Linked DNA regions of Homo sapiens. The protein of the gene in region 1 purifies or fractionates together with the protein of each later gene. This does not show direct contact. Each region holds a gene or a part of one and is shown in the gene's direction. Other genes may lie near its edges.

Evidence for each region.
Region 2: the proteins of ATP4A (region 1) and SCAMP2 purify together in Homo sapiens (affinity purification with mass spectrometry, with the first as the bait; one study listed by BioGRID). This does not show direct contact.
Region 3: the proteins of ATP4A (region 1) and CD163 purify together in Homo sapiens (affinity purification with mass spectrometry, with the first as the bait; one study listed by BioGRID). This does not show direct contact.
Region 4: the proteins of ATP4A (region 1) and SYPL1 purify together in Homo sapiens (affinity purification with western blotting; one study listed by BioGRID). This does not show direct contact.
Region 5: the proteins of ATP4A (region 1) and ANXA7 purify together in Homo sapiens (affinity purification with mass spectrometry, with the first as the bait; one study listed by BioGRID). This does not show direct contact.
Region 6: the proteins of ATP4A (region 1) and TFR2 purify together in Homo sapiens (affinity purification with mass spectrometry, with the first as the bait; one study listed by BioGRID). This does not show direct contact.
Region 7: the proteins of ATP4A (region 1) and CBLIF purify together in Homo sapiens (affinity purification with mass spectrometry, with the first as the bait; one study listed by BioGRID). This does not show direct contact.

The regions. Positions count from the first base shown.
Region 1 is NC_000019.10:35,560,859-35,565,100, reverse strand, and holds the start of ATP4A (potassium-transporting ATPase alpha chain 1), read left to right. Parts: upstream 1-1,442; 5' UTR 1,443-1,471; coding exon 1,472-1,483; intron 1,484-1,573; coding exon 1,574-1,717; intron 1,718-1,832; coding exon 1,833-1,892; intron 1,893-2,462; coding exon 2,463-2,666; intron 2,667-4,168; coding exon 4,169-4,242. UniProt on the Homo sapiens protein: The catalytic subunit of the gastric H(+)/K(+) ATPase pump which transports H(+) ions in exchange for K(+) ions across the apical membrane of parietal cells.
Region 2 is NC_000015.10:74,852,613-74,856,873, reverse strand, and holds part of SCAMP2 (secretory carrier-associated membrane protein 2), read left to right. Parts: intron 1-2,224; coding exon 2,225-2,293; intron 2,294-2,754; coding exon 2,755-2,853; intron 2,854-3,377; coding exon of another isoform or gene 3,378-3,506; intron 3,507-4,261. UniProt on the Homo sapiens protein: Functions in post-Golgi recycling pathways. Acts as a recycling carrier to the cell surface.
Region 3 is NC_000012.12:7,493,335-7,497,595, reverse strand, and holds part of CD163 (scavenger receptor cysteine-rich type 1 protein M130 isoform b precursor), read left to right. Parts: intron 1-462; coding exon 463-783; intron 784-2,194; coding exon 2,195-2,515; exon of another isoform or gene 2,516-2,568; intron 2,569-4,187; exon of another isoform or gene 4,188-4,261. UniProt on the Homo sapiens protein: Acute phase-regulated receptor involved in clearance and endocytosis of hemoglobin/haptoglobin complexes by macrophages and may thereby protect tissues from free hemoglobin-mediated oxidative damage.
Region 4 is NC_000007.14:106,105,464-106,109,724, reverse strand, and holds part of SYPL1 (synaptophysin-like protein 1), read left to right. Parts: intron 1-2,643; exon of another isoform or gene 2,644-2,777; intron 2,778-4,261.
Region 5 is NC_000010.11:73,386,319-73,390,579, reverse strand, and holds part of ANXA7 (annexin A7), read left to right. Parts: intron 1-2,165; coding exon 2,166-2,268; intron 2,269-2,796; coding exon 2,797-2,891; intron 2,892-4,261. UniProt on the Homo sapiens protein: Calcium/phospholipid-binding protein which promotes membrane fusion and is involved in exocytosis.
Region 6 is NC_000007.14:100,634,515-100,638,775, reverse strand, and holds part of TFR2 (transferrin receptor protein 2), read left to right. Parts: intron 1-4,261. UniProt on the Homo sapiens protein: Mediates cellular uptake of transferrin-bound iron in a non-iron dependent manner. May be involved in iron metabolism, hepatocyte function and erythrocyte differentiation.
Region 7 is NC_000011.10:59,831,576-59,835,699, reverse strand, and holds part of CBLIF (cobalamin binding intrinsic factor precursor), read left to right. Parts: intron 1-3,903; coding exon 3,904-4,022; intron 4,023-4,124. UniProt on the Homo sapiens protein: Promotes absorption of the essential vitamin cobalamin (Cbl) in the ileum. After interaction with CUBN, the CBLIF-cobalamin complex is internalized via receptor-mediated endocytosis.

The DNA.
Region 1 (4,242 bases):
CACCCCATAACATACCAAGGTCCCCACCATTCCACTGGCCCAGCCCCTCGCTGCTGCTGCCCATGGAGGTCCCTACCTGAGGGATGAGGAGGGAGTCCCCAGGCCTCCTGGCATCTGTCACCCAACACCAAGATCAAGCCAAGACCCTTGGACACATCCTTTCCCCATGTTGCACCTTGGTTTCCCCATCTAGGGTAGGGACGGGGAATGGTTGAGAGCTGTAAAGTCTGTAGCTGGATATGTGAGTCCCTGTGAGCCTCAGTTTCCCCCTCTGCACAACAGGAATGATAGTTCTGCCTGCACAGGGTTTTTTGCAAAGACCCGTGAGGTCACACGTGCAGAGCCTGGCATGTGTGTGGTGCTGCTGCAGTGAAGTTTGGGTTTTTCCATTGGTGGTGCCATAGAAGAGCTAGGCTCTGGGGTCAAGCCCTGGGGTCAAGCCCGGGCTGGAACCCTGTCCCTAATTCTTAGACGTTGAAATCTTCTGCAAAGTCCCTGATGGGGGCTAAGAAGAGAATATTGCTTTACAGGGCTGCTGTTAGATGCTAAGGAAACCATTTGAGTGACACACAGAGCACACCCAGCCCATAGTGAATAGTCAGAGTTCAGTAAACATTCAGCCACCATAGAGAGTGTTGTAAGCATGGCAGGGCATGGTGGCTCACGCCTGTAATCCCAGCACTTTGGGAGGCCAAGGCGGGTGGATCACCTGAGGTCAGGAGTTCGAGACCAGCCTGGCCAACCTGGTGAAACCCCGTCTCTACTAAAAGTACAAAAATTAGCTGGGTGTGGTGGCATGTGCCTGTAGTCCCAGCTACTCAAGAGGCTGAGGCAGGAGAATCACTTGAACCCGGGAGGCGGAGGTTGCAGCGAGCTGAGATTGCACCACTGCACTCCAACCTGGGTGTCAGAGTGACACTCCATCTCAAAAAAAAAAAGAAAAAAAAAAAGAGTGTGGGAGCACCCTCCTCTTCCAGTTGATCAGGCACGTGCTATTTAGACTGAAAGAGGACACTCTGCAGCCAGCTGATCTGGTTCTCACTCCATTATGTCCTAGCCTGTGATGGAGCCATAGGAGAATGACTCAACCCCTCCATGCCTCAGTTTCCCCATCTGTAAAGGGTCTTGTCCCCTCAAAGGGTTATTGGAAGGTTAAATAAGTTAGCACATGGAAGCCGTCAGCACAATGCCCAGCGCATAATGAGCACCTTATGTTTGCTCTTCTTGTTGCTGCAGCGGTTCCCAGGGGCTCCCTGATCTCAGGGCAGGTTGACATGGGGGGATCTGGGCAGGGGAGGGGGGGGCCAGCCCAGGAGGGAATGCCTGAGGTGCCCAGGCCTAGAGGTCACCCCAAGGAGCCTGTAATCAGCTGTGGTCGGGCGGTTCTGCTCCACCCCACCGCCCTCCCTGGGTATATCAGGACTGGTCCGGGCCCAGGCTCTGTTGGGTGGGAGCACAGGCACCGGGCACCATGGGGAAGGCCGTGAGTGGGGCCCAGGGGTCCGGGGTGCAGTGGGGACAGGGGTTGCAGTGGAATCTGAGTTCTCCCTCCCTCCATCCTGTCCATTCCCAGGAGAACTATGAGCTCTACTCGGTGGAGCTGGGTCCTGGCCCTGGCGGGGACATGGCTGCCAAGATGAGCAAGAAGAAGAAGGCGGGTGGCGGGGGTGGCAAGAGGAAGGAGAAGCTGGAGAACATGAAGAAGGAGATGGAGATTGTGAGCTCTGACTGGGGAGGGGCGGGAGCTGGAGGGTAGGCTGGGAACCAGGCAGTGGGCGGGGAGGGGGCCAGGAGAGCCCAGAGCAAGCACCCTGCCCCACCCCACCACACAGAACGACCACCAGCTGTCAGTGGCGGAGCTGGAACAGAAATACCAGACCAGTGCCACCAAGGTGAGCTGGAGACTGGGAGCGTACAGAAAGGGGAGGAGGAGAGAGGGAGGGAGAGGGAGATGGAAGGAGGGAGATGGAGAGAGGGAGAGAGAGGGAGAGATGAAGAGAGGAAGATATGGAGAAATAGAGAGAGGGAGGGAGGCAGAAAAGGAAAGAGGGAGGGAGGGAGAGAGGAAAGGATGGAGGGAGGGGAGGAGAGAGGGAGGGAGATGGAGAGAGGGAGAGAGAGGGAGAGGGAGAGAAGGGAGAAAGCATTAGAGAGAAAGGGTGACACACAGAGACGGAGAGAGGAGTAGCTGAAAAGAGACAGCAAGACAGAGAAGGCAGAGACAAATAAGGAGAGAGCAGCAGGAGAGAGACACATAGAAAGGGGAGCGAGGAGAGAGAGACAAAGGGAGAGATGAAGGAGGGAGGGAGAGATGGGGTGGGGGCAGGAACCAAGAGACAAAGAGATGAGAAGGAGCAGGACAGACCAAGCTGGAGAAGGGAAACTGAAGCAGGGGGCTTTCCACGGGGTGTGCATGTGGAGGAAAGCCCCCAGGACCGCCTCGCCCTGCCCCTCTGTCCCAGGGCCTCTCTGCGAGCCTGGCTGCTGAGCTGCTGCTGCGGGATGGGCCCAACGCACTGCGGCCACCACGGGGCACCCCAGAGTACGTCAAGTTCGCGAGGCAGCTGGCCGGGGGCCTGCAGTGCCTCATGTGGGTTGCCGCCGCCATCTGCCTCATCGCCTTTGCCATCCAGGCTAGTGAGGGGGACCTCACCACCGACGACAATGTGAGCCATGTTGTGGGGACAGGCTCAGGACATGGGGACCTGGGGATGGAAGACACTGAGCCTGGGACTTGGGACAAGAGGGGCAGAGAAGGATGGGGATAGACGAACACGAAAGGCAGTCTCAAGACAGGGGTCATGGAGGGTGAAGGACATTGGGATATGGATGGGGCAGACCCAAGGACACAGGACACAGGGACACTGGGGTGAATCTTGGGTATGGGGACATAGGTGGGGGCATAAAGAGTATGGCAATGTGATACGTAAGAGATGGGATTTGGAGGCCGGGCGTGTAATCCCATGCCTGTAATCCCAGCACTTTGGGAGGCCGAGGCGGGCAGATCACCTGAGGTCAGGAGTTCGAGACCAGCCTGGCCAACATGGCAAAACCCCATCTCTACTAAAATTACAAAAATTAGCCAGACATGGTGGCGGGCACCTGTAATCCCAGTTACTTGGGAGGCTGAGGCAGGAGAATCATTTGAACCCAGGAGGTGGATGTTGCAGTGAGCCAAGACCATGCCACTGCACTCCAGCCTGGGCGACAGAGCGAGACTGCATCTTAAAAAAAAAAAAAAAAAAAAAAAAAAGAGATGGGACTTGGAAGCAGAGGACATGCAGTGCAGACACAGGACAGACTGAGGCACGGGGAATAGGAGACCCTGGGACTCAGACATAGGACACCAGGGCAGGGACCCAAGCCTCAGGACACAGCACATAGAGAGACACAAAACATGAGACATAGAAGCACAGAGACAGAGAGGAAATGGAGGTGCAGGGCAAGGGACATTGGACATATGGCAGAGATGAGGGCAAGGGACATGGGGACTCAGGGACATGTGACATGGGACAGAGGCTCGAAAAGTCATGGCCATGGGACACAGGATGGGAACTCGGAGATACACAGACATGGGAGACACGGGACACAGTGACTGGGGAGCTAGAACATGGGGGCCGTGGCCACAGAGGACACAGACCATGACGTACAAGGTCTGCAGCACACGCAGGGACGGGGATGTGAGGATGCAGGGACAAGGGGGCCCAGGGGACACACAGAGGGTGGCAGCAGATTATGGAAAACCCAGGATGTGAAACTGGAGACACGGGGAATACAGGCCATGGGGACAGGAGGAGACATGGGACAGTGGACATGGGGAATGCAAGGCTTGGGGACACAGGAGAAGGGAACACGTCAGACCAAGGCACACAGTGATTTGGGGCACAAGTCACAGATATGGGGACATGGAAGATTGAGGATTCAGGGCCAGAGGATATGAAATATACACAGAAACACAAGACACTGAGAAGACAGAGCAGGCGAGTGTGGGACATGAGGGACATGGGAGGGGGCTAAAGGCTACAGGGAATGGTGCATGGAGCTTCCTAGTAGGTGGGGAAAAGCATGGGGAAAACCAAGAAAACCAGGGCACCAGGGAGCAGGTCGGTGGCCTCAGGCAGGCAGCTTCCGGCCCCTCTGAATAACCCCACCCCTTCCCTGTCCCCAGCTGTACCTGGCAATCGCTCTCATTGCTGTGGTTGTCGTCACCGGCTGCTTTGGCTACTACCAGGAATTCAAGAG
Region 2 (4,261 bases), on another chromosome or scaffold:
TTGTAATCCTAGTGCTTTGGGAGCCCAGGGTGGGAGGACCACTTGAGCTTAGGACTTCAAAACCAGCCTGGGCAACAAAGCAAGACCCCATCTCTACAAAAAAACTTTAAAAATCAGCCAGGCCTGGTGGCTCATGTGTGTAGTCCTGGTTACTCCGGAGGCTGAGGTGGGAGGAATGCTTGAGCCCAGGAGTTTGAGGCTACCATGAGCTATGATTGCACCACTGTACTCCAGCCTGGGCAACAGAGTGAGACCCTGTCTCTAAAAAAGAAAAAGGAAAAAAAAAAAAAAGAACTGGAGGCCAGGTGCAGTGGCTCACATCTGTAATCCCAGTACTTTGGGAGGCTGAGGTGAGCGGATCACCTGAGGCCAGGAGTTCAAGACCAGCTTGCCCAACATGGTGAAACCCCATCTCTACTAAAAATATAAAAATTAGCTAGGTGTGGTGGCAGGCGCCTGTAATCCCAGCTACTCAGGAGGCTGAGGCACGAGAATAGCTTGAGCCCAGAAGGCGGAGGCTGCAGTGAGTGGAGATCATGCCACTGCACTTCAGCCTGGGTGACAGAGCGTGACTCTGTCTTAAAAAAAAAAAAAAAAAAAAAAAAAAAAGAACTGGCTCTGCAGAGGCTTCCAGTGGAGGTGAGGCTGGGCCTGAAGTTTGGGAGCATCTGGTTTAATAATTAGGGGTGTGGGGTGAGGTGTGGAACCCAAGCGGTGTCTCCACAGGCAGGAACAGCCCTGAATTTGGCCACCCTCAGGGCTGTTCCTCATGGAGCCCAGGCATGGCTGTGAAGCTGGACCTGAGCCCTGCATCTGTTACTAGGAAGGGGAGGGTGTGGAGGAGCTCTTCTTGGGGCAGGGCAGGGTGAAGACAACTGTTCCAGGCCAGCAGGGGCACAGTAAAGAGGATGGCAGAGCCCCATGCAGAGATCAGATGGGAAAGGGAGACAAGGTTGTGTTCTGAGGACATTCTTGGATTTTATGAAAAGACTTTAAAAAACCCCCGAAACCCAGAAACATTTTCTTGAATTTTCACCTCAGCTCATCATATCTCTGCTCTTAGCAAGTGTGCCCGATTTAATAAAATCAGTACTGGCAGCCAGCAGCATGTTTTTGTTCTAGAAACTTAGACTACTTTTTTTTTTTTTTTTTTTTTTGAGATGGAGTTTTGCTCTTGTTGCCCAGGCTGGAGAGCAATGGCACAATCTGGGCTCACTGCAACCTCTGCCTCCCGGGTTCAAGTGATTCTCCTGCCTCAGTCTCCGGAGTAGCTGGGATTACAGGCATGCGCCACCACACCTGGCTAATTTTATATTTTTAGTAGAGACGGGGTTTCTCCATGTTGGTCAGGCTGGTCTTGAGCTCCCGACCTCAGGTGATCCACCCGCCTCAGCCTCCCAAAGTGCTGGGATTACAGGCATGAGCTACTGCACCCGGCTACCTTAGACTGTCTTTTACAAAATAAGAGGAATGGCCAGGCATGGTGGCTCACGCCTGTAATCCCAGCACTTCGGGAGGCCGAGACAGGCAGATCACGAGGTCAAGAGATTGAGACCATCCTGGCCAACATGGTGAAACCCTGTCTCTACTAAAAATACAAAAATTAGCCGGGTATGGTGGCGGCCGCCTGTAGTCCCAGCTACTCAGGAGGCTGAGGCAGGAGAATCGCTTCAACCCAGGAGGCGAAGGTTGCAGTGAGCCAAGATTGCGCCACTGCACTCCAGCCTGGGTGACAGAGCAAGACTCTGTCTCGAAAAAATAAAAAAATATAAAAAAAGAGGAATAAATGAATAATAAGTAAAACAGTACAGAAAGGTTATAAAGTCAATAGTAAGTCTCTACCCTCACCACCCCATTCACTTGCCCCTCAGCACCCCACCCCTCAAAAAAAAAAAAAAACCCACTCCCTAGAGGTAAATACTATGAACCATTTTGAATCTGTATAGGGCACCAACAGGAGCCTGTGTGGTGTGTACTCTCAAGCTTCTGGGTAAAGCTTGCTCTGGGTCTCTTCTGGGCTGAACCTTTTCCAGGAAGGGGGAAGGGAGAAGGGACCGCAGCTGTGGTGTGGCAGAGGCAGGCACAGGACCCTTCCAGAGAGGCTTCTCAGGGTCCCGGGAGGGTGATCAGCTGCCCTGCTTCAGTCAGGCGTCACCGGCTCGCCTGCCGGCCCCTGGCCCGGATTTTCTCCACTGTGTCTAAGGGCTTTTTTTCACCTTCTCAGGATCCCTCTGTGACCCAGCTGACCAACGCCCCGCAGGGCGGCCTGGCGGAATTCAACCCCTTCTCAGAGGTTGGTGAGCAGGCCCTCTTTCCAAGTCCCATGGCCCTCTAGGGTGGTGCTGGGGTGTCCGGGGCAGGGATCCTTGGCAAGGACAGAAGCAGCTCTGAGAAGCGGCAGTCCTCAAAGGGACAGTCCTAACATGAACCCGGGAGGCAGGGTAAGGATGGCAAAGCCACCAAACGCTCTGTAAAATTCTCCCCTTGGGATCTGTGACCGGGGCCCCTCCCCAAGGAGGTCAGGGCAGTGCCCAAGTGTGCTGGACCCAGCGAGCCCAGGGGTGCCGGGTTAGGGATCAGATGGCCTGAACCTGAGGCTTGTTGGCTGGGAAGCCACAGGGGAAGGCCCAGTGCAGGCCCCGAGGGAGTCCCCTCACAGGCAGGGGCACATCACTCATCCTGCTGTGGGTTTGCCCCCTCGTCACCAGCTAATGGAGTCCCACTCAATTCTGTCTTTTGATTTGTTCCATGTAGACAAATGCAGCGACAACAGTTCCTGTCACCCAACTCCCTGGGTCCTCACAGCCAGCGGTTCTCCAGCCATCAGTGGAACCAACCCAGCCGACCCCCCAGGTAGTGCTGACAAAGAACTCTGGCCTTTTCTCTCCAGTGAGGGAATCATCCAGACCAGTAGCTGAGCCCTGAGGCTGGGGGCAAGCAGAGAGCTTTCAGCCTTGGCCCCCTAAGGGCCCTCTTGCTAATTTGTTCGGAGCTGGTCACCTACAAGTAGAGGGGCTGCTCTGCCAATTAATATCCTTACTCCCTCCATCCCACCCACCACCACCACTGAGAAATAAGCTCTACTCACCAGGCCGGGCTCCTCGGTGCCTCCAGAGAGGGCATTTGTCCCTGTTGTACCCCTCCAGGTCCTCCTCGGGCCTTTGGCTTGTTCTCTCTTCCTTGGGGCCCAGAATCTCTCTCTTTTTTTTAACTTCATTAATTCTCACCTTCCTTCCTGTCTTCCTTTGTCCCTTCACCAAATACTGTGAATCTTGCCTGCTTTGTGCCTGGTGCTCCACTGCGCCGCCTCACTGCCCTCCCGCTGCACCCCTCGCTGCCCCTATGAGCGTGACCCATGGTGGAGTTGTGTGTTGCAGCTCCTGCTTAGACAGGCCAGCAAGTTCCCGCCTGCCCAATTCCTGGCAGTGAGCGAGCTCTCAGAGAGGCAGATGCTCCTAGGAGGAGAAAGTATTCTCAGAGACAGCTACATGCGAAAGCTTCCGAAGGTAGGCCTAATGTAGATGAGCAGGAGGAAGGGCAGGGCACCCGGAGCCTGCCCCACACCCCTCCCAGGCCCCAGAGCCCTGTGGAGGTGAGGCAGGCCTTACATGCGGAGTTGCCTTTCTGTGCAGCTGGGTGGTGGGCTGTAGGGAGCTGGGTCCTTCTCAGCTGGCGTCACAGACTTGGAGGAGGTCAAGACCCCCAGCGTGGCACAGCGGGGTCAGTTCTGCTCCTGCTTCCGCCCCCAGTGCCTGAAACTTGGCTCTCCACGTCAGCCTTAGGTCTTTGAAGAGCTTTTGGAGAGGTTGGTGTGTGTATACATGTGTGTGTGTACACATGTGCCTGGTTTGTCATCCTGTGAAATGACCAGTTTGAGATCTCTCCCTAAAAAGGACTGTAGTCTCATCCTTCAGGAGGAACCTGGCCCAAATGGCAGCAGCTGCCAGCAGGTGCAGGGCCCCGGGGCCAGGTCTGTTCAGCCTCACATACAGTCAGTCCCTTACTGTTACTCAGAGGCTCTACCCCGCCTGGAGAGGAGATAAGTGTGGACTCTGCATGCCACTAAAGCCAGGCAGGGCAGGGCCACACCTAAGGGGCTGTCCTGGGGTGTAGCCAATTGCAGTTTAGGGGGACCTCAGGAGGCAGCTCCTGGGGGCAGGCCATGGGGCAGGGTGCTTGTACAGATCCTGAGGCTCAGGCACACGCCATCTGCCTTCACGTGTCTCCCCTTTCCACTCACTGTTAGCAGGCTTGCACTGTT
Region 3 (4,261 bases), on another chromosome or scaffold:
AAGGAAGTGGTCACAACAGGTTCAGGTGTACAACACAGGCTAGGTAGTATCAATGGAGAATGCAGTCAGAGGCAAAAGGGATTGCTAAGTATGGAGGCAAACTGAAGGATGAGGGAGTCACCTAAACACATGCAAATATATTTTAACCAGAAAAAGTAAACAGTTCTAACAAGAACTCTGTGGTGGTCAAATAGCAGGTCTCTAGATGAAATTCAGTCCCTGTATCTCCTGTTAGAAACACTTCCTGTAGTATATGCTGTCTATACTGAGATGTCCCATCTTCTTGCCTGATCCACTCCTCCTTCCATCTTGAATGATTTCCAGTGGTAGTACAGTACATCACAGTTTTCTCTGTCTCCACTTATATCTCTCCCCTTTTCCTTAACTCATCTCAGGTATAGCTATTTATAGTCTCATGTTCTTGCTTCCTTATCGCAGACCTGTTGTGTGTCTCTGTTACAGAGGGAGCAGATCTGAGCCTGAGACTGGTAGATGGAGTCACTGAATGTTCAGGAAGATTAGAAGTGAGATTCCAAGGAGAATGGGGGACAATATGTGATGACGGCTGGGACAGTTACGATGCTGCTGTGGCATGCAAGCAACTGGGATGTCCAACTGCCGTCACAGCCATTGGTCGAGTTAACGCCAGTAAGGGATTTGGACACATCTGGCTTGACAGCGTTTCTTGCCAGGGACATGAACCTGCTATCTGGCAATGTAAACACCATGAATGGGGAAAGCATTATTGCAATCACAATGAAGATGCTGGCGTGACATGTTCTGGTAAGTTAAAACCAAACCAAAACCAAAACACTAAACAAAAAGAAAAGCAGAAACGGAAAGTCCTGTGCTCCTTAAGAGTAGGAACGTGCTCCTTAAGAAGTAGAAATGCCTAGTAAATTCCTTGCTGGGAATTCCTTTATACCTGTAATCTTTGACACATTCTTTATTCAACTAGTTTGGAAGGTTGTCTGACGGCATTCTCTGTAATAATTACTCAGACTGCTTTTATGGAGCACACTTCAAACTCAGAATCTACCTGGAGCTCAGAGAGACAAAATTTCCTAGGAATCTGTTTTTAAATTTTTTTAATTTACTTATTTTTTTACTTTAAGTTCTGGGATAGATGTGTTGAATGTGCAGGTTTGTTACATGGGTAAACATGTTCCATGGTGGTCTGCTTCACGTATCAACCTGTCATCTAGGTTTTAACCCCCCATGCATTAGGTATTTGTCCTAATGCTCTCCCTCCCCTTTCCCCCCACCCATTGACAGGCCCCAGTGTGTGATGTTCCCCTCCCTGTGTCCGTGTGTTCTCATTGTTCAACTCCCAGTTATGAGTGAGAACATGCAGTGTTTGGTTTTCTGTTCTTGTGTGTTAGTTTGCTGAGGATGATGGTTTCTAGCTTCATCTGTGTCCCTTCAAAGGACATAAACTCATTCTTTTTTATGGCTGCGTAGTATTCCATGGTGTATATGTACCACATTTTCTTTATCCAGTCTATTATTGATGGGCATTTGGGTTGGTTCCAAGTCTTTGTTATTGTAGATAGTGCTGCAATAAACATACATGTGCATGTGTCTTTATAGTAGAATGATTTATAATCCTTTGGGTATATACCCAGTAATGGGATCGCTGGGTCAAATGGTATTTCTAGTTCTAGATCCTTGAGGAATCACCACACTGTCTTCCATAATGGTTGAACTAATTTACACTCCCACCAACAGTGTAAAAGCTTTCCTATTTCTCTACATCCTTGCCAACATCTGTTGTTTCCAGACTTTTTAATGATCGCCATTCTAACTGGGATGAGATGGTATCTCATTGTGATTTTGATTTGCATTTCTCTAATGACCATTGTTGATAAGCTATTTTTCATATGTTTGTTGTCCGCATAAATGCCTTCTTTTCAGAAGTGTCTGTTCATACCCTTCACCCACTTTTTGAGGAATCTCTTTTAAAGCTGAATTGCTCATATCTTTCTGCCATTGACAATTTTTATCAACCCTTGAAACTACAGTCCCATTTCTAACAAAAATTTATGGTCTATATTATTGTTTCTTAAAAAGTCAGGAAATAAGTTACCTATAATTTTCAATGCATCAGTATCAGAGAAGAAAAAAGACAAAAAAAAATCCTCTGGAAGCTAACCTCCATATGTATCGATGGTTTAAGTTTATGTTTCTTTTGCAGATGGATCAGATCTGGAGCTAAGACTTAGAGGTGGAGGCAGCCGCTGTGCTGGGACAGTTGAGGTGGAGATTCAGAGACTGTTAGGGAAGGTGTGTGACAGAGGCTGGGGACTGAAAGAAGCTGATGTGGTTTGCAGGCAGCTGGGATGTGGATCTGCACTCAAAACATCTTATCAAGTGTACTCCAAAATCCAGGCAACAAACACATGGCTGTTTCTAAGTAGCTGTAACGGAAATGAAACTTCTCTTTGGGACTGCAAGAACTGGCAATGGGGTGGACTTACCTGTGATCACTATGAAGAAGCCAAAATTACCTGCTCAGGTATGACTTTCAATCAACTTGTTAAGAAGAAGGGTGTAAATTTCCAGTACTACCTTTGAAATTGAAAAGAAACATTGGTCCTTATGACTAGATCACTCTCAAGAAACCAGGAAATATCTACACAAATTCCACTGGGAGAGTCAGATAAGTTTACAATTCATGTTGCACTTTAGATAGAAGTGTTTGGGTTTTGCTCACTTTGGTTTTTGAGTAATTTTTAGATCAATAGAGGTATAAGATTAAGGAGGATTAAAATTTAAAAAATAGAATTCAATATTTCTTTCACAGGATGTCACCAAAAGATTTAAAAAATAACCATGTTAGATAAACTGACATAACCTTCAGCTCCCTCTATTGTACTGTGAAAGAATTTTCTTTTTTTTTGGAAAACCTGTGAATATTTCACTGCAACCTCTTTAAAAAGCTCAAAAATGAGTTGTAAACTGGTTAGGTTTGTGGATAATCTTTAGTATTTTATGCTAATTATATTTATACAAATGTTAACTTTGTTGAAAAGTGATGCTTTTTAAATAACTCTAAAGTAAATGTAACTTTTACTCATGCAACAAAAAGGCTTTAGAAAACACAGTGTACAAGAAAACCATTAAACATGTAGAGACCTCACAGAATGGAAACTTGTACGTGCTGCATGTCCTCTAACCAACAATATGGCTCCAGATACCTCCCAACCTAGGCATGCAGTGAGGGGCATTTCCCTGATGTTACAAATGGTGCTTACCTCTAGTTAAGTAGAAATTATCCTCCGATTGAAAAAAGGCAATCATTTAAGATATAAATTTGAATTTCTATATTACTTTTTAAAAAATATTCTGGACCAGGCAATATAATCACATGGTTTAAACTTCAAAATAAAAAAGTGTAAACTCTTCCCCCACTACTATCCAATTCTTTTCCTCACAGACAACTTATGTGGTTGGAATATTTATATATTATTTGAGATATTTCATGTAAATACAAGAAAATACAAACAAATCTATATATAGCTATCATTTGCTTTCATTATCCAAATGGTGGCATGTTGTATAAATTGTTTTGTACCTGAAGTATTCACTTAGTAAAATTTCTTGATCAAATTTCACATCAGTATTTAAAGAGCTGTCTGAAATTACTTCCATATCTATAACATTTCTTATAATTTATTACCGTGTGTATTCATTTATTCTTTTAATTTTTTACCTGACAAGGTTAGCCATTCTTTTACCTAAATTTTTTTTTAAAAAACCATTATTTGGATTTTAAAAAATTAATGTTACTTTTATTTCCTTTCTAATTCATTAAAATTTACTTTTCTTTCTAATAATTCTCTTCAGATTTCCTAAAGTTTGATTTCTTTTTGGCCCCCAACTTCTTGAGTTGAATCTTAAGTTTTATTTCTTCTGATTTACTAATATAAATATTTTAGGTTATAGATTTTCCTTCTAAATTTATAATGGTTTGTATATTTTCTTATTAATTGTATTTTACATTGATTAGCATTAAGTTCTGCTGTATCTAAAAGAGAAACAAATAATAGTGACTGAAGAAAGACAGTGTTCACTTTTTCTCATTTAAAATTAGTCAAATAGATAAGCAGTTTAAGGCTGTTTTGGTGTCTCTGTTGTCACCAAGAAACATCCAGAATAGATTTGCTGCAGTAAGTATCAAATCCTACCGGACAGGAAGGATAAGCCACCCCGCAGCTCAGTGAGTTCCTTGGAAAGCCAATCTGGTAGACGAAGTGCTGGC
Region 4 (4,261 bases), on another chromosome or scaffold:
TTCGTTGCCATTAGCATATTCAAGGTAATGTCATTAAGAGGAGGAGGAGCAGATTTTATGGGAAGTCAAAGGTTTCAGATGTATTGAGTTTGTGGTCTCTTTAGATCTTTTGGAGGTATCCTATAGGATACAGCTATATATATGGATCTAGAATTTAAAATATGAGTTTGGGCTGCAGATATAGCAGATATCTGCCTGCAAAGGAGAGAAGGAATGGTTAGGAAAATTGAGGGAAATAATGCCTTGGCATCACTATTAGAATTTCAAGAAAAGAGTACCCCAAAACGTAAGGTGCAATAGAATGGTAAAGTAAAATAAGGACTAGTTGATAAAATAAGGACTAGTTAGCAAGAGCAGTTTCAGTAAAATCAAAAAGCCAGATTTTAGTAGGCTGAATGAATGTGTGGTAAGAAAGTGAAGACAGCATAAACCGCTGTTTGACTGTGAAGATGGGAGAAATTTGGTGGTTACAAAAAAAAGCCACTAGTTCAGCTTACAACTCAGTTGCTTAAATGCATTCTCTGGAGACAACCATTGTATTTGGTATGCAACAAAAGTCTTTATTTGCATTTCCCATTTTATCCTACTGACAAGAGAACTCAAGGGTCAAGGTTTAATAAAATTTTTACTGCTTCATCAGACATTCTTAAGTAAAACTGGTGGGGGTTTTTTGTTCTTTTTTGTTTTTGGTTTTTTGTTTTTAACTGCAAGTATGTGGCAGTGAAATAGAGTTTGGTATTCTTCCTGATTCTTATTAAACCCGGCAGTTTTCCCCACCAGTTTATCTGCTTCATCAGTACAAATGTCAGCACAGTGTAAAAGGCAAATAATGTCTTAGTATCGTTAGGAAAATGTTTTACCTTCATGAACTCCTGAAAGAGCCTTGGGAGCTTTCAGGGGTCCACAGACCACGCATTGAGAATTGATGAGGTAAACACCACTGGGGACCAGAAACAGAACAGAAAATACGGCAGGGAGAAAGACTATTCCCAAATTTGGTAATTATTAATAAATCTGAAGAAAGCTCAACCAACTATCTGGATTTACGACTTAAATAGAGCTGAGTACTTAAAAGTGTAGAAATAAAGAGATATATATAGCCTCTCAAGACCTGGACCAATCTACTTGCAGGCTTAAGGTCTGGATTTGTGATAACGTGTATGTTCACTTATGTTGGTGGTTTGGGGGTCCCATCATAAGGTGTGTTTGTGGACCAGGGGACTCAGAAGGCCAAGCAGAAATGACCATGACCATAAAGCCGCTAGACAGGGATAGAAGCAGGAGGGGACAATCAAGTTGAGCCTATATCAAATATCCTAAAACACATGAAGAAAACTAATTTTTACTTAAAAATTCAAATTATGTCAGTGGCAACAAATGCTGTCAGTTTTCCACAGAGTGACAGGCTTACTTCAAGACAGCCAGCCAGATCAACAATCAGGATATTGATTCACTCCAGAAGACATGAAAATAGTAGAGCAATTAGAAAATGATTTCTATTTTTAAAAATATAAATTATATTTTAAATTTTTAAAAATATAGTCTCTGTCTTGTCCAGGCTGGAGTGCAGTAGTGTGGTCTCGGCTCAATGCAACCTCGCCTTCCAGGTTCCAGAGATTCTTCTGCCTTAGTCTCCCGAGTAGCTGGGATTACAGGCGCTCGCCACTACATCCAGCTAAGTTTTGTATTTTTAGTAGAGACGGGGTTTCACCATGCTGGCCAGCCTGGACTCTAACTCCTGACCTCAAGTGATCCACCCGCCTCGGCCTCCCCAAGTGCTGGGATTATAGGCATGAGCCACCGCGCCTGGCTGATAAATGATTTTTAAATAAATATATTTAGGTTCCTCAGAGATTTAAGGTGACATAAATGTGTTTTCAACATACAATGATTAGGAGTTAGCAAAAAACTTCTAGCTGTTTATTTCAGTAGGAACTCTAGAGTTTACTTCTCATAATCCAATTTTTTTTTTTTTTTTTTTTGGAGACGGAGTCTTGCTCTGTCACCCAGGCTGGAGTGCAGTGGCATGATCTCAGCTCACTGCAACCTCCATCTCCCAGGTTCAAGTGATTCTCCTGCCTCACCCTCCCAAGTAGCTGGGACTACAGGCGTGTGCCACCTTGCCCGGCTAATTTTTGTATTTTTAGTAGAGACGGGGTTTCACCTGGTTTCACCAGGCTGGTCTCAAACTCCTGACCTCAGGTAGTCCGTCCGCCCTGGCCTCCCAAAGTGCTGGGATTACAGGCGTGAGCCACTGCAGCCGGCCATAATCCAAATTTTTAAGGATTATGGAATTATCTTGGCAGGCTATTTAGAATTTTCTACTATTGTACATTAGAAGCAAAGGGAGATAGAGTGAAACTGAAGCACTTTGTAACTGACTTTATTTCCCAGTGGGAATAAACTGAAATACCACCATCAAAAACAATACTTTTTTGAAATGAATAACTTTAGTAAACATTTTGGACTTTGACTCATAAAAATCATACCTTGGCTCTAGGCATCTAATCTTTTGATTGTAAAGGCAAACGTGCTATAATATTTCATTTTAAGTGCTGAATGATCATTTGACTTAAAACCAGCATACATTTCTTTTGCATGTAAACACTCATACATAATATACTTTTATATCTATTTTTGAAGATTTCAGTTATCACTTTGATAAACTAAACCTTGGACAGAAAGAAATTTAAATAGATGATTTCAGATTAATGATGAAATTAAATAGCAATGAAGATCCTGCAACTAGAAACGTGTAAACAACACTCATAAACCAGGTGAATACTAGTATTCTCCAGTAGAATCCTCAGAATTAGCATGGTCTAGCAATAGAAGTTAAGGCTCCAAACTCTTTTTAAATTTTATTTATTTATTTTTTGAGACAGGGTCTCACTCTTGTCACCCAGGCTGGAGTGCAGTGGCACGATCACAACTAATTGCAGCCTTGACTTCCCCAGGCTCAAGCTTTTCTCTCACTTCAGTCTACTGGGTAGCTGGGACTGCAGGTACACACCACCACCCCCAGCTACTTCTATAATTTTTTATAGAGACAGAGTCCCACCATGTCACCCAGGCCAGTCTCGAACCCCTGGGCTCAAACGATCACCTGCCTTGGCCTCCCAAAATGCTGAGATGAACCACTGCACCCAGCCTCCAGAGTCTTTTTTTTTTTTGAGACAGAGTCTTACTCTGTCGCCCAGGCTGGAGTGCAGTGGCATGATCTCGGCTCACTGCAACTTCCGCCTCCCAGGTTCAAGCAATTCTCCTGCCTCAGCCTCCCAAGTAGCTGGGATTACAGGTGCCCACCACCACACCCAGCTAATTTTTTTTGATATTTTTAGTAGAGATGGGGTTTCACCATGTTGGCCAGGCTGGTTTCGAACACCTGACCTCAGGTGATCCACCCGGCTCAGCCTCCCAAAGTGCTGGGATTACAGGCATGAGCCACTGTGCCCAGCCTCCAGAGTCTTTTTTGCACTCCTATTAGTGCAAAATTTTATGGACAGAGCCACAATATGCATCTACAACTTAAGATGCATGTTTTACTATGTCAGTTAGTATCTTAAGGTATATTATATACTCAGTGCAAATTTTGTTTATATTTTTAAATCCTTGCTTCAGATACTATTCTGATAATTTTTTATTGTTGTGCCACCGTCTTGTGATCTGATTAAGTAGTCTGTTTTTACCTTGTAATATGGCTGTTGATTGTAATCATAGAGTAGTATGAATGCTTCCATTTTCTCTTTTATACATGAGTGTGTGTGTTACCAATCTATTTCTTTGAAGACATTTTAAAGCCATGGGTCAATTTTGTGAAGGTTGATTTGGTTAAAACTAGACAAATTATTCCATAAATCCAGGCCCACTCACATTGTAATGCATGAACACTAAAAGTGAAAGAATAGATGAGGTTATCACTGTCTGTCCTTCCATGTATGAGATTCCCCTTACCTTCAGGATACCCAGCATGCTGTACTGACATGTGACCTTCTGATGTGCATGCCCAGCATGGGTTTCAGTGGTATATTAATTGCAATAAAGCTTCAATTCCTTATTTAAGTCTGAAAGTAGATCTAAATAGAAGTTTACATATTTTCTTCTGGTACTCCAGTCTACTTTGGAGACTAGTGCTCTGGAAAACCAGGCTGTACTATTCACCCTGAGGTTACAATTCTCTGAATAAGATCTGCCATGGTGGTCATCTAGTATGGGTCTGGTGGGCAGAGAAGTAAGTGGGACTGTTTCTCTGGATACTTGG
Region 5 (4,261 bases), on another chromosome or scaffold:
GACAGCGGTTACATCAAAGGAAACTTAGTTTCTTGAGACATGAAGGCTTATAAAATTTTTTTATACTCGACTATTTGCTACAAGTAGAATAATTTTGGCTTTCTATTAAAACCACTATAGGTATATTTGTTAGTTCTCTGCTTACAGCCCTAGCTTGGAAACTAGTAGAGGATGGATGCTAAGGCTTACTGGTAGAAGAAAATGTTGGAGTAAAAATATATATGAGTGGGAGGAGCTATTGACCCATAAAAGTGTTATCTTGAAAAGCTGCTGAAAGATGGGGCTTGTTCTCATCTCCTCAGTTGCTTTGCCCCCACAAATGCTGGTGTACTGCTGTATTCAATGTGTATAACTTTAAATACAGTTTCTGTTGTCTAAAAAGCATTGAATCATCTTTTATTTTGAAATGGTATTGATTGCATGTTTAAATGATAATACTTTGGAGGTATTGGATTAAATAAACTGTGTGTGTGTATATGTGTGTTTTCTGCAGTGAAAACACTTATTTTACAACAGTAATCTTTATTTTAGGTCAACATTCAAACATACAAGAAATGTGTTGTTACAATTAAAATTTTTTTAAAAAGTAGTGGAGCATCATCTTCATCCCATCCCTCTTAAGCCCTGACTTGAACACCCTAAGAAACTTCTTGAATTATTCTGGGCTGGCCGCACACCTGTAATTCCAGCACTTTGGGAGGCCAAGGCAGGGGGATCACTTGAGGCCAAGAATTCGATACCAGCCTGGGCAACATAGCAAGACCCCCGTCTCTACAAAAGTAAGAAATTAGCTGGGCATGGTGGCACATGGCTGTAGTGCTAGCTACTCAGGAGGCTGAGGCAGGAGGATTGCTTGGGCTCAGGAATTCAAGGTTACTGTGAGCTATGTTTGTGCCACTGCACTCCAGCCTGAACAACAGAGTGAGAGCCTATCTCTAAAAAATAAAAAATTGGGGGAAACTATTGAATTATTTCATAGCTTTGTATTTTAAATTGTTTTATCTTTTAATTTTGACATAATTTTAGACTTGCAAAATAGTACAAATAATTTGTATATACCCTTTACTCAGATTCTCCAAATGTTAACTTCCTACATAAACACAATGCAATGATCAAAATCAGGAAATAACATCGATATAGTACTGTTACCCAACCTACAGACCTTATTTCAGTTTCACCAGTTGTCTCAATGATGTCCTTTTTCTGGTTCAGGATCAAATCCAGAATGCAATGTTGTATTTATTGTCATGTCTCTTAAGTCTCCTTTAATCTGAAATAGTTCCTCAGTCTTTGTTGTTCATGCCCTTGATGCTTTTGAAGAACACTGTCAGTTATTTTATAAAATATTTCTTAATTTGGGTTTGTCTGATATTTTCTCATGGTTAAATCCAGGTCATGCCTTTTTGGCAAGAGTACCACAGAAATGATTTTGTGCCCCCAGTGCATCATATCAGGAGACACTTATTATTGACTTATTCCATTACTGGTGATAATTAATTTTGATCATTTAAGTTGGTGCCTGCAAGGTTTCTCTGCTATAATGTTATAGGTTATACAAATATCCTGTTTCTTTATACTTTTGCCACCTAATTTTAGCACCCACTGTTGATTCTTGCCTGAAACAGTTACTACCATAGTATTTGCTAAATGGCAATTTTTAATTTTCATATAGATTTATTTCATGTATAATAATCAGGGTCCATATAGGAAATTAAGAGAGATTACTAAAATTATATTGCTGGTTTGAAATCTCACTGGGCATTCATGTGCTACTTCACTAAAGCCATTTTATATTCTTCTGTTTTTAAATCAAACATTGTCGCTCATCTCACACCATTCAGGGATCAGTCTTCTTTTTTCTTCCTATTCTACCAAAAAGGAAACTATAGTAAGATTGTGACTTTAATTTCACAAGTTTGGCCATCTTGTCTCCTGGAAGTTTGGTGTCTGGCTATCTGTTGGCAGGAGAAAAATCTGTCCTGAAGGGGGATAGGTCTTTCCTGTCTGTTCCATAATGAGCTCTGGTAATAAAATGCTCATATCCTTGCCTTAAAACCCAAACATTGGCCTTCTTACTTAAGATTGATGTCTGGGGAAGTCTTTAAGTTTCCTCATTAGAAACTTACTGGAAATGCTGACACGGATTTTATGCCTTTTATTTTCAGCCTGCCACAGTGACTCAGGTCACTCAAGGAACTATCCGACCAGCTGCCAACTTCGATGCTATAAGAGATGCAGAAATTCTTCGTAAGGCAATGAAGGGTTTTGGTAAGGAAAACAAATTTTTGTCTTTTTTAATAAGTTAAAGTAATCAGTTCTAAAGTAAAAATAAACCTTATCTCATAAACCCAAGTTTATGTGTCAGCCTGGGTGCGCATACCTGGATTTAATCTGATGTCTAGTGCCTTGTAAGCATTCTAAGAGATGACCTCAGGCTGGGTGTGGTGGCTTACACCTGTAGTCCCAGCACTTTAGGAGGCCGAGGTGGGCAGATCACCTGAGTTCAAGACCAGCCTGGCCAACATGGCGAAACTCCATCTGTACTAAAAATAAAAAGTAAAATAGTTGGGCATGGTGATGCATGCCTGTAATCCCAGCTTCACGGGAAGCTGAGGCAGGAGAATTGCTTGAACCTGGGAGGTGGAGATTGCAGTCAGCCTAGATCACACCATTGCACTTGCACCCCCAGTCTGGGTGACAAACTCCGTCTCAAAAAAAAAAAAAAAAAAAAAAGATGACCTCAAGCAGCACCTAGCATGTACTTTGTCCTTACTTAAACATGTGTGGTTCTTCCAGGGACAGATGAGCAGGCAATTGTGGATGTGGTGGCCAACCGTTCCAATGATCAGAGGCAAAAAATTAAAGCAGCATTTAAGACCTCCTATGGCAAGGTATGTTTTTCTTTCCTGGAATGAGCACCAGCAGTGGCTGGTAGACTCTGCATTCATGTCAGATTGGATACTATATTTTGATTAGTACCTGTGGTGCAAAAGAGGGACAACTAGACTTTAGAGACCTCAAGGGTACTGTATTCCCTATTTCTGTTTTTTGTTTTGTTTTGTTTTGAGATGAAGTCTCGCACCAACATCCAGGCTGGAGTGCAATGGTGCGATCTCAGCTCACTGCCGTCTTTGCTTCCCGAGTTCAAGCAATTCTCCTGCCTCAGCCTCCTGAGTAGCTGGGACTACAGGTGCACAGCATCATGCCTGGCTAATTTTTGTATTTTTAGTAGAGACAGAGTTTCACCATGTTGGCCAGGCTGGTCTCTAACTCCTGACCTCAAGTGATCCGCCTGCCTCAGCCTCCCAAAGTGCTGGGATTACAGGCGTGAGCCACCATGCCTGGCCTATTTCTCTTAAAAGGCTTTTTCATTCTAGAGTAGTCCTTGATCTCATAATCATACCTTACCCCAGTCACATATGTGATAGACATTCAGTAGAAAGTAGATCACAACTACAATCATGATCAAGAGGATGGTTCTCAGTCTTCTGCCTGTTACAGTGGGATTCAAGGCTTATTACATAGCCCTTGTTTATTCTTGGTCCTGGGCATCGCCTTCTGCTTCTCTCCCTTTCTCTAAACGTGTCCTATGTTAAAATTATATGGACTGAGCGTGGTGGCTTACGCCTGTAATCCCAGCACTTTGGGAGGCCAAAGCAGGAGAATTTCTTGAGGCCAGGAGTTCAGGACCAGCCTGGGCAACATAGGGAGACTTCATTTCCAACAACGATGACAACAAATTATATTAGCTGGGCGTGGTGGCGTGTGTCCATAGTCCCAGCTGCTTGGGAGGCTGAGGTAGAAAGATTGCTTGAGCCCAGGAAGTCAGGCTGTTAGTGAGCTGTGATTGTGTTACTGCACTGTAGCCTAGGTGACAGAACAAGACGCTGTCTCAAAAAAAAATAATATGGAAATGCTTGCCATTCTCTGTACACGCCATGATCTTTTATGCTTCTGTGTTGTGTACATGCCATTCTCCTGGCCTTGAATACCTTTTCTTTTTTTCATGGCAAACTTCTTTAAGATTTGGCTTAAATATCAGCTACTCTGAAGTTTCTTTCATTAGTCTGGACAGAATTTAGCTGCTTCTTAATACTGTAGTCCCATAGCACTTTGTAAAACCTCTGTTATTACTAATCTCACGGCCCACCCCCAAAAACTGAGCTCCCATAGGACAAACCATGGTCATAGTCATCTTTGTATTACAGTACCAAGTATATAATGGCAAGTAGCCACTTAGTACTTGTTGAATGGATGATCA
Region 6 (4,261 bases), on another chromosome or scaffold:
GCTATTTTTTTTTTTTTTACTTTTTTTGAGACAGAGTTTCACTGTTGCCCAGGCTGGAGTGCAGTGGTGCGATCTCGGCTCATGGCAACCTCCACCTCCCAGGTTCAAGCAATTCTCCTGCCTTAGCCTCCCGAGTAGCTGGGATCACAGGTGCCTGCCACCACACCCAACCAATTTTTTGTATTTTTAGTAGAGACGGGGTTTCACCATGTTGGGCAGACTGGTCTCAAACTCCTGACCTCAGATGATCCACCCACCACGGCCTCCCAAAGTGCAGGGATTACAGGCATGAGCCACCATGCCCAGCCTAATTTTTAATTTTTTTTAGTAGAAACGAGGTCTCCCTATGTTGCCCAGGATGGTCTCAAACTACTGGCCTCAAACAATCCTCCCACCTCAGCCTCCCAAAATGCTGGGATTATAGGAATGAGGTACCGCACCCAGCCTGCTCAGGGCTTTTAAATTAAATTACAGGTCAGGCATGGTGGCTCACACCTGTAATCCCAGCACTTTGGGAGGCCGAGGTGGGCAGATCATGAGGTCAGGAGATCGAGACTATCCTGGCTAACATGGTGAAACCCCGTTTCTACTAAAAACACAAAAAATTAGCTGGGCGTGGTGGCGGGCACCTATAGTCCCAGCTACTTGGGAGGCTGAGGCAGGAGAATGGCATGAACCCGGGAGGCGGAGCTTGCAGTGAACCGAGATCGCGCCACTGCACTCCAGCCTGGGCGACAGAGCAAGACTCTGTCTCAAAAAAACAAAACAAATACAAAATTAGCCGGGCGTAGTGGCGCATGCCTGTAATCCCAGCTACTCGGGAGGCTGAAGCAGGAGAATCGCTTAAACCCAGGAGGCGGAGGTTGCGGTGAGTCAACGTCGTGCCATTGCACTCCAGCCTGGGCAACAAGAGTGAAACTCCATCTCAAAAAAAAAAAAATTAAATTACATTAATTTTTTTTTGAGACAGGGCCTTGCTCTGTCACCTAGGCTAGAATGCAGTGGTGCAATCTGGGCTCACTGCAGCCTCGATTTCCCAAGCTCAGGTGATTCTCCCATCTCAGCCTCCTGAGTAGCTGGGTCTACAGGGAGGGGCCACCACGCCCAGCTAATTTTTCATTTTTCTTTTTTCAAAATTATTATTATTATTTAGGGACAGGATTTATTTATTTTTATATATTTGCAACCAATTCTCACTCTGTTGCCCAAGCTGGAGTACAGTGGCATGATCTTAGCTCACTGTAACCTCCGCCTCCCGGCTTCAGGTGATTTTTGTGCCTCAGCTTCCCAAGTAGCTGGGACTACAGGCGTGAGCCACCATGCCCAGCTAATTTATGATTTTTTTGTTTGTTTTTTGTTTTTTTCTTTTTTTTTGTGAGACAGAGTTTCACTCTTGTTGCCCAGGCTGGAGAGCAATGGCACGATCTTGGCTCACTGCAAACTCCGCCTCCCGGGTTCAAGCGATTCTCCTGCCTCAGCTCCCCGAGTAGCTGGGATTACAGTCATGCGCCACGACACCCAGCTAATTTTGTATTTTTAGTGGAGATGGGGTTTCTCCATGTTGGTCAGTCTGGTCTCGAACTCCTGACCTCAGGAGATCCACCCACCTCGGCCTCCCAAAGTGCTGGGATTACAGGTGTGAGCCACTGCGCCCGGCAATTTATGTATTTTTTTTAGGGACAGGGTTTCATCATGTTGGCCAGGCTGGTTTCGAACTCCTGGGCTCAAGCAATCCTCCTACCTTGGCCTCCCAAATTTCTTGGATTACAGGCGTAAGCCATGGTGCCCAGCCTGTTCAGGGCTACTTTTATTTTTTTGAGCAGTATTTGGTCATCTGGGTACAGGCTGAGCAGGTAGATAGTTTGACAGGTCTAGAAGCGGGGTGTGGCACTGAGGCAAAAGTAGCAGTTTTGGGGAGAGAGCAAGGATGTTGCAGTGAGCCGAGATCGCGCCATTGCATTCCAGCCTGGGCAACAAGAGTGAAACATGGCTCTCGGTGGGATGGAGAGGGAAGAGAAAGTGGGGGGAGATGATACATGTGGAGCTATAGGACATTTGTCATGTTCAATGGGGTTGAAGAGCAGGTACAGCGAGGATAACTGGGGGAGTTGGAACCTGACAGGGTCTACTCAGAGAGTAGGATTCTGGATCCTTGAAAACTTCCTGATACAATATATCCTGTCTATCTCAGAGTCTCCAGCACCTACCACAATGCCTGGCACTTACTAGATGTTCAGTAGATCCTCAATGGATAAGTATTCCAGAGATGGAGTGCGGGTAATGACAAGATGCAGGATACGGGCCAGGCACAGTGGCTCACGCCTGTAATCCCAGCACTTTGGGAGGTCAAGGCAGGTGGATCATCTGAGGTCAGGAGTTTGAGACCAGCCTGGCCAACATGGTGAAATCCTGTCTCTACTAAAAATACAAAAATTAACTGGGTGTGATGGTGCATGCCTGTAATCCCAGCTACTCGGGAGGCTGAGGCAGGAGAATCACTTGAAACTGGGAGGCAGAGGTTGCAGTGAGCTGAGATCGCACCAATGCACTCCAGCCTGTGAAACAGAGCAAGACTCCATCTCAAAAAAAAAAAAAAAAAAAAAAAGATGCAGGGTGTGACCAGGGAAGTGGAGTGCCTGGACTGGAGGTGACAATGATGAAGTAATTAATTCATTTATCCAACAAGTATTTTGGGGCATCTACTACGTGGCAGGTACTAAGCTAAGCAGGTGGTGGTGAGATAGAGACTAAAACAGTCTAACTTTGTTCTCATGGTGCTTACAATCCACTGGAGAAAACCAATACTAAACTAACAATCATTCACGACTACATAATTATGACTGGAATCATTGCTTTGAAAGAAAAGCAAAGGATGTGAGGCTCAGTGTGGTGGCTCACACCTGTGAGCCCAGCACTTTGGGAGGCTGAGGTGGGAGGATCTCTTGAGCCCAGTTTGAGACCAGCCTGGGCAACATAGAGAGATCCTGTCTCTTAAAAAAATAATAATAATTTGACCAGGCACGGTGGCTCACACCTGTAATCCCAGCACTTTGGGAGGCCAAGGCAGGTGGATCTCCTGAGGACAGGAGTTCGAGACCAGCCTGGCCAACATGGTGAAACACTGTTTCACCCTTTTTAGGCTCTACTAAAAATACAAAAAAAATTAGCTGGGCATGTTGGCGGGCACCTATAATCCCAGCTACTTGGGAGGCTGAGGCAGGAGAATTGTTTGAACCTGGGAGGTGGAGGTTGCAGTGAGCCAAGATTGCGCCATTGCATTCCAGCTTGGGCAACAAGAGTGAAACTCCATGTCAAAAATAATAATAATAATAATAATAATAATTTTTTAAAAAAGAAAAATAAAAAATTAGCCCAGTATGGTGGTGCATGCCTAGAGTCCCGGCTATTCAGGAGGCTGAGGCAGGAGGATGGCTTGAGCTTAGGAGCTGAAGGTTGCAGTGAGCTATGGTCATGCCACTGCACTCCAGGCTGGGTGACAGAGTGAGACCCTATCTCCAAAAAAAGAAAAGAAAAGGGGCCGGGCGCCATGGCTCATACCTGTAATCCCAGCATTTTGGGAGGTGAAGGTGGGCTGATTGCCTGAGGCCAGGAGTTTGAGACCAGCCTAGCCGACATGCCGAAACCCTGTCTCTACTAAAAAAATACAAAACTAGCTGAGTGTGGTGGTAGGCGCCTGTGGTCCTAGCTACTCAGGAGGCTGAGGCAGGAGAATCACTTGTACCCAGGAGGCAGAGGTTGCAGTGAGCTGAGATTGCACGACTACACACCAGCCTGGGCGACAGAGCGAGACTCCGTCTCAAAAAAAAAAAGAAAGAAAGAAAGAAAAAAGAAAAGAAAAGTGTGTAAAGAAAGACTATAACCAGGATCCTGATTTAGATTGCAGTTCAGGGAAGGCTTCGTTGAGGAACTGACGAGTCTAAACTGCCAAGATGAGTAATTTGCCAGGCAAAGAGACTGTGGAAAAACATTCAGGCTGAGATTCACCATTTGCGAAGGGTCTGAAATGTGAAGATGGTGGCCTCTTGGAGGAAGGGAAAGATGGTCCATGTGGCCGGTGAGGTGGATGTAGCTCAGGCCCTAAAGGGCCTTACTGGCTACTTTAACTGTTTTGAATTGAATTTTCCTGCCTCATCCCTGAGTGATCCTCCCCACTCCCCTCCCCATAAGCACCTTATCTCACGCTTTTGATGTGTAGCTTTAAATACACATATGGGGCGGGTCGTCATGGTTCATGCCTGTA
Region 7 (4,124 bases), on another chromosome or scaffold:
TTAATAGCGCTTGAGCAGCTTTCAATCTAATAAATAGGTAAGGCTCTCATGAAAACTTAAATCATATAAGTCAACATATGATGAAGTTTTAAAAACAAAAATTCAGAGGAGATTCGAAAGTCCATTGCAGAGTAGAACAGGCAAAAGAGACTTTGTAGCTTTGAAACACAAAGAATAGGTACTATTTAGGAAGATGTGGGAAGAGGTAAGTCCAGAAAAAGAAATGGCCAGAACAGGCCGGGCGTAGTGGCTCATGCCTGTAATCCCAACACTTTGGGAGGCCCACGCCTGTAATCCCAGCACTTTGGGAGGCTGAGGCATGCGGATCATCTTAGCTCAGGAGTTTCACCAACATGGTGAAACCCCGTCTCTACTAAAAACACAAAATTAGCCAGGCGTGGTGGCACGTGCCTGTAATCCCATCTACTCGGGAGGCTGAGGCAGGAGAATCGCTTGAACCTGGGAGACGGAGGTTGCGGTGAGCCGAGATCATGCCATTGCACCCCAGCCTGGGCAACAAGAGCAAAACTTCATCTCAAAAAAAAAAAAAAAGGAAAAGAAATGGCCAGAACAAAGCATTTGCGATAAGACTGAGCAAGGAATTTGGGGCCAATGAATAGGCCAGGTGGACATACCAGGTTGGGTGACAGTGTAAAAGTCTTGAAATACCAGGTTCAGGAGACTGAACTTCATTTTGCAAGTTTTTGAGTAAGAAAATCCACTTGGTAAAATGTTGCTTAGGTCGTGAGAATAGGAGACAAGGCTAAAACATAGGACATGACTCCAATAATGGAGGTGTGAAGTGACGATGACTTCCTCTGGGATACACGGACCCACACCAAGGCTCTGTGAGTGATGGGACATAGAGGTCAAGAGAAAGAAGCTTCAAAACTATTGATTAAAGGGTCAAGAAGAAAGAATATCTTTCAAAGAAAAGGATTAAATTCCTTAGATATGTTTAATGGTAGGCATTTGAAATAGGAACATTAGAAGGCTTTTGGCGGTATAGTCCAGGCACAGTGGCTCATGCCTGTAATTACAGCACTTTGGAAGCTGAGGCGGGTGGATCAGTTGAGGGTAGGAGTTCGAGACTAGCCTGGCCAACATGGCGAAACCTCATCTCTACTAAAAGTACAAAAATTAGCCAGGCGTGGTGGTGCGTGCCTGTGGTCCCAGCTACCCAGGAGGTTGAGACGGGAAGATTGCTTGAGCCTGGGAGGTGGAGGTTGCAGTGAGCCAAGATCGTGCCCACTGCTCTCCAGCCTGGGAGACAGAGTGAGACTCTGTCTCAAAAAAAAAAAAAACAAAAAAAAGGAAGGAAAGAAGGAATTGAGAGAGAGAAAGAAAGAGAAAGAAAGAAAAAGGAAGGAAGGAAGGAAGGAAGGAAGAAAGAAAGAAAGAAAGAAAGAAAGAAAGAAAGAAAGAAAGAAAGAAAGAAAGAAAGAAAGAAAGAAAGAAAAAGAAAGAAAGAAAGAAACAGAAAGGCAGGCTTTTGGAGGCATAGAGGAAGTACTAGGAAAAGAGGTCAGGACATGCAAAAAATAAATTGGACAGTCATCTCTTAGAGGTGATGACCTAAGTCAAGAACCCATGCAGTAGATAGCAGATACTTGCACCCAATAAAACCATAAGACATATTTAGTTATTCTCATTTTACAGATAGAACCCTTAGGCCCAAAGAAGTTAGTAACATTCCTAAGATCACATAACATGTAACTAATAGAGTTGAGAGTGGAACCCAGGTTGGACTGAATCTGATGCTCATGTTCTTTCCATGCCCCTCTCAAGGTAGGGGAAAATACAGAAATAAATCACAGAGGAGAAAATTAACTTTTAGGGCATGTTTATAGTTTGCAAAAAGAGGAAGCAGTAAAGAAACATGGAGAAGTCTAAGCTATAGGAGGAGAGGAGGAAAAATGCCAAGTCATGGAAAGGAAAAAAGCATCTTTTCTTTTTCAAAGAAAAGATGATCCAAATTCTTCAGGAAGATATCAAGAAGGAATACTGACAAAGGCTAAGGAATTGACAACTGAGTGATACCACGTGGGTATCTATTCCACCCGGTTCTGTTGAGCACATTGTGTCTGCTGCTTACTGCACGACTCCATAACTTCCCTAACTTCCATAGACAGGTCAGGATAAAAATTGCACTTCAAAACTATTTAATTTTTTTTTTTTTTTTGAGACAGAGTTTTGCTCTTGTCACCCAGGCTGGAATGCAATGGCGCGATCTCGGCTCACTGCAACCCCCACCTCCCGGGTTCAAGTGATTCTCCTACCTCAGCCTCCTGAGTAGCTGGGATTATAGGCACCCGCCACGATGCCCTGCTAATTTTTGTATTTTCAGTAGAGATGGGGTTTCAGCATGTTGGCCAGGCTGGTCTTGAACTCCAGACCTCAGGTGATCCACCCACCTCAGCCTCCCAAAGTGCTGGGATTACTGGCGTGAGCCACTGCGTCTGGCCCAAAAATATTTAATTTTAAAACCCTCTGAATATACCGTACTTTACTTCTCTGAAGTTAGCTTTAATTTTGCCTAATTTTTCTTTTTCTGATTATAAATGTATTAAATACATAGAGCAGAAATTTTGAGGGAAAAAGCAAAAAGAAGAAAAATCATCTATAGTCCACACACAATATCACAATTGTTAATATTTTTTATAACTTTTGTAGGTTTTTTTCTATGCATATTACAAATAGGTGTGATCCATCATATACATGGGACAGATATTTCATGTAAAATTTGTACCTCATATTTTCACTTAACGTTATTGCATAAGTAGTTTCCTGTGTTACTGAAAATTATTGACAAATATTTTCATGGCTTCCAAATATTTAATCTTGGATATTCATTCCATCACTCATATAATCATTTACCCATTTGGGGGAATTTACATTTTTTAAATTTGATTATTAATAGGTGTTTTCAAAATCCATTCATTTTCATTTCATTTCATTCTAAGTGAAGTAATTTCATATTCATTAGTCATTTGTATGTTTGCTTTTTTAAAATTTATTTATTTATTTATTTATTTTGAGATCAGGTTATGAGACTGGCTAATTTTTGTATTTTTGTTAGAGACGGGGTTTCACTATATTGCCAAGGCTGGTCTCGAACTCCTGGGCTCAAGCAATCTGCCCTCTTCAGCCTCCCAAAGTGCTGGGATTGCAGGCATGAGCCGCCACACCTGGCCCATTTTCTCTTTTTTTTAAACTTAACTTTTATTTTAAGTTTGGGGTACATTTGCATGTTTGTTACATAGGTAAACTGTGTCATGGGGGTTTGTTGTACAGATTATTTCATCACCCAGGTATTAATTCTACTACCCATTAGTTATTTCTCCTGATCCTGTCCCTCCTCCCAACCTGTACCCTCTGATAGGCCCCTGTGTGTGTTGTTCCCCTCTGTGTATTCATGTGTTCTCATCATTTTGCTCCCACTTATAAGTAAGAACATGCAGTATTTGGTTTTCTGTTCCTGTGTTAGTTTGCTAAGGATAATGGCCTCCATCCATGTCCATTGCAGCACGATTCACAATAGCAAAGACATGGAATCAACCTAAATGCCCATCAATAGTAAACTGGTTAAAGCATTTTCTCATTTGATTTTATCTGATCATTTTATCAGATAAAATCATGCTCAAAAGAGAATATCATTTAAAATATCTGAAGCATTTATCTGAAGCATTTAAAGTGTCTCTATCCTGGCGGGTGGATGCTTGAGCCCAGGATTTTGAGGCTGCCATAAGCTAGGATCTCACCACTAGCCTGGGTAACAAAGTCACACCTTGTCTCTAAAAAATTAATTAACTAATTAATTAATTGACTGTCTCTATCCCTTCATCTTACCGCTTATTCCCTGACCTAAAGTGAGATGTTAATCATATATAAACTTTTTTTTAGATTTGAAACCACAATGACATCTTGGGGCCTTGTCGTCTCTTCTATCAACAATATCGCGGAAAATGTTAATCACAAGACATACTGGCAGTTTCTTAGTGGTGTAACACCTTTGAATGAAGGTGAGGGAAGAAAAGACATAGGCGTTATCTTCCATAGTCTGAAGGCTACATTCTTTAATTATTTTTTCATTTAATTTATTCATTCATTCACTTAATTAATAA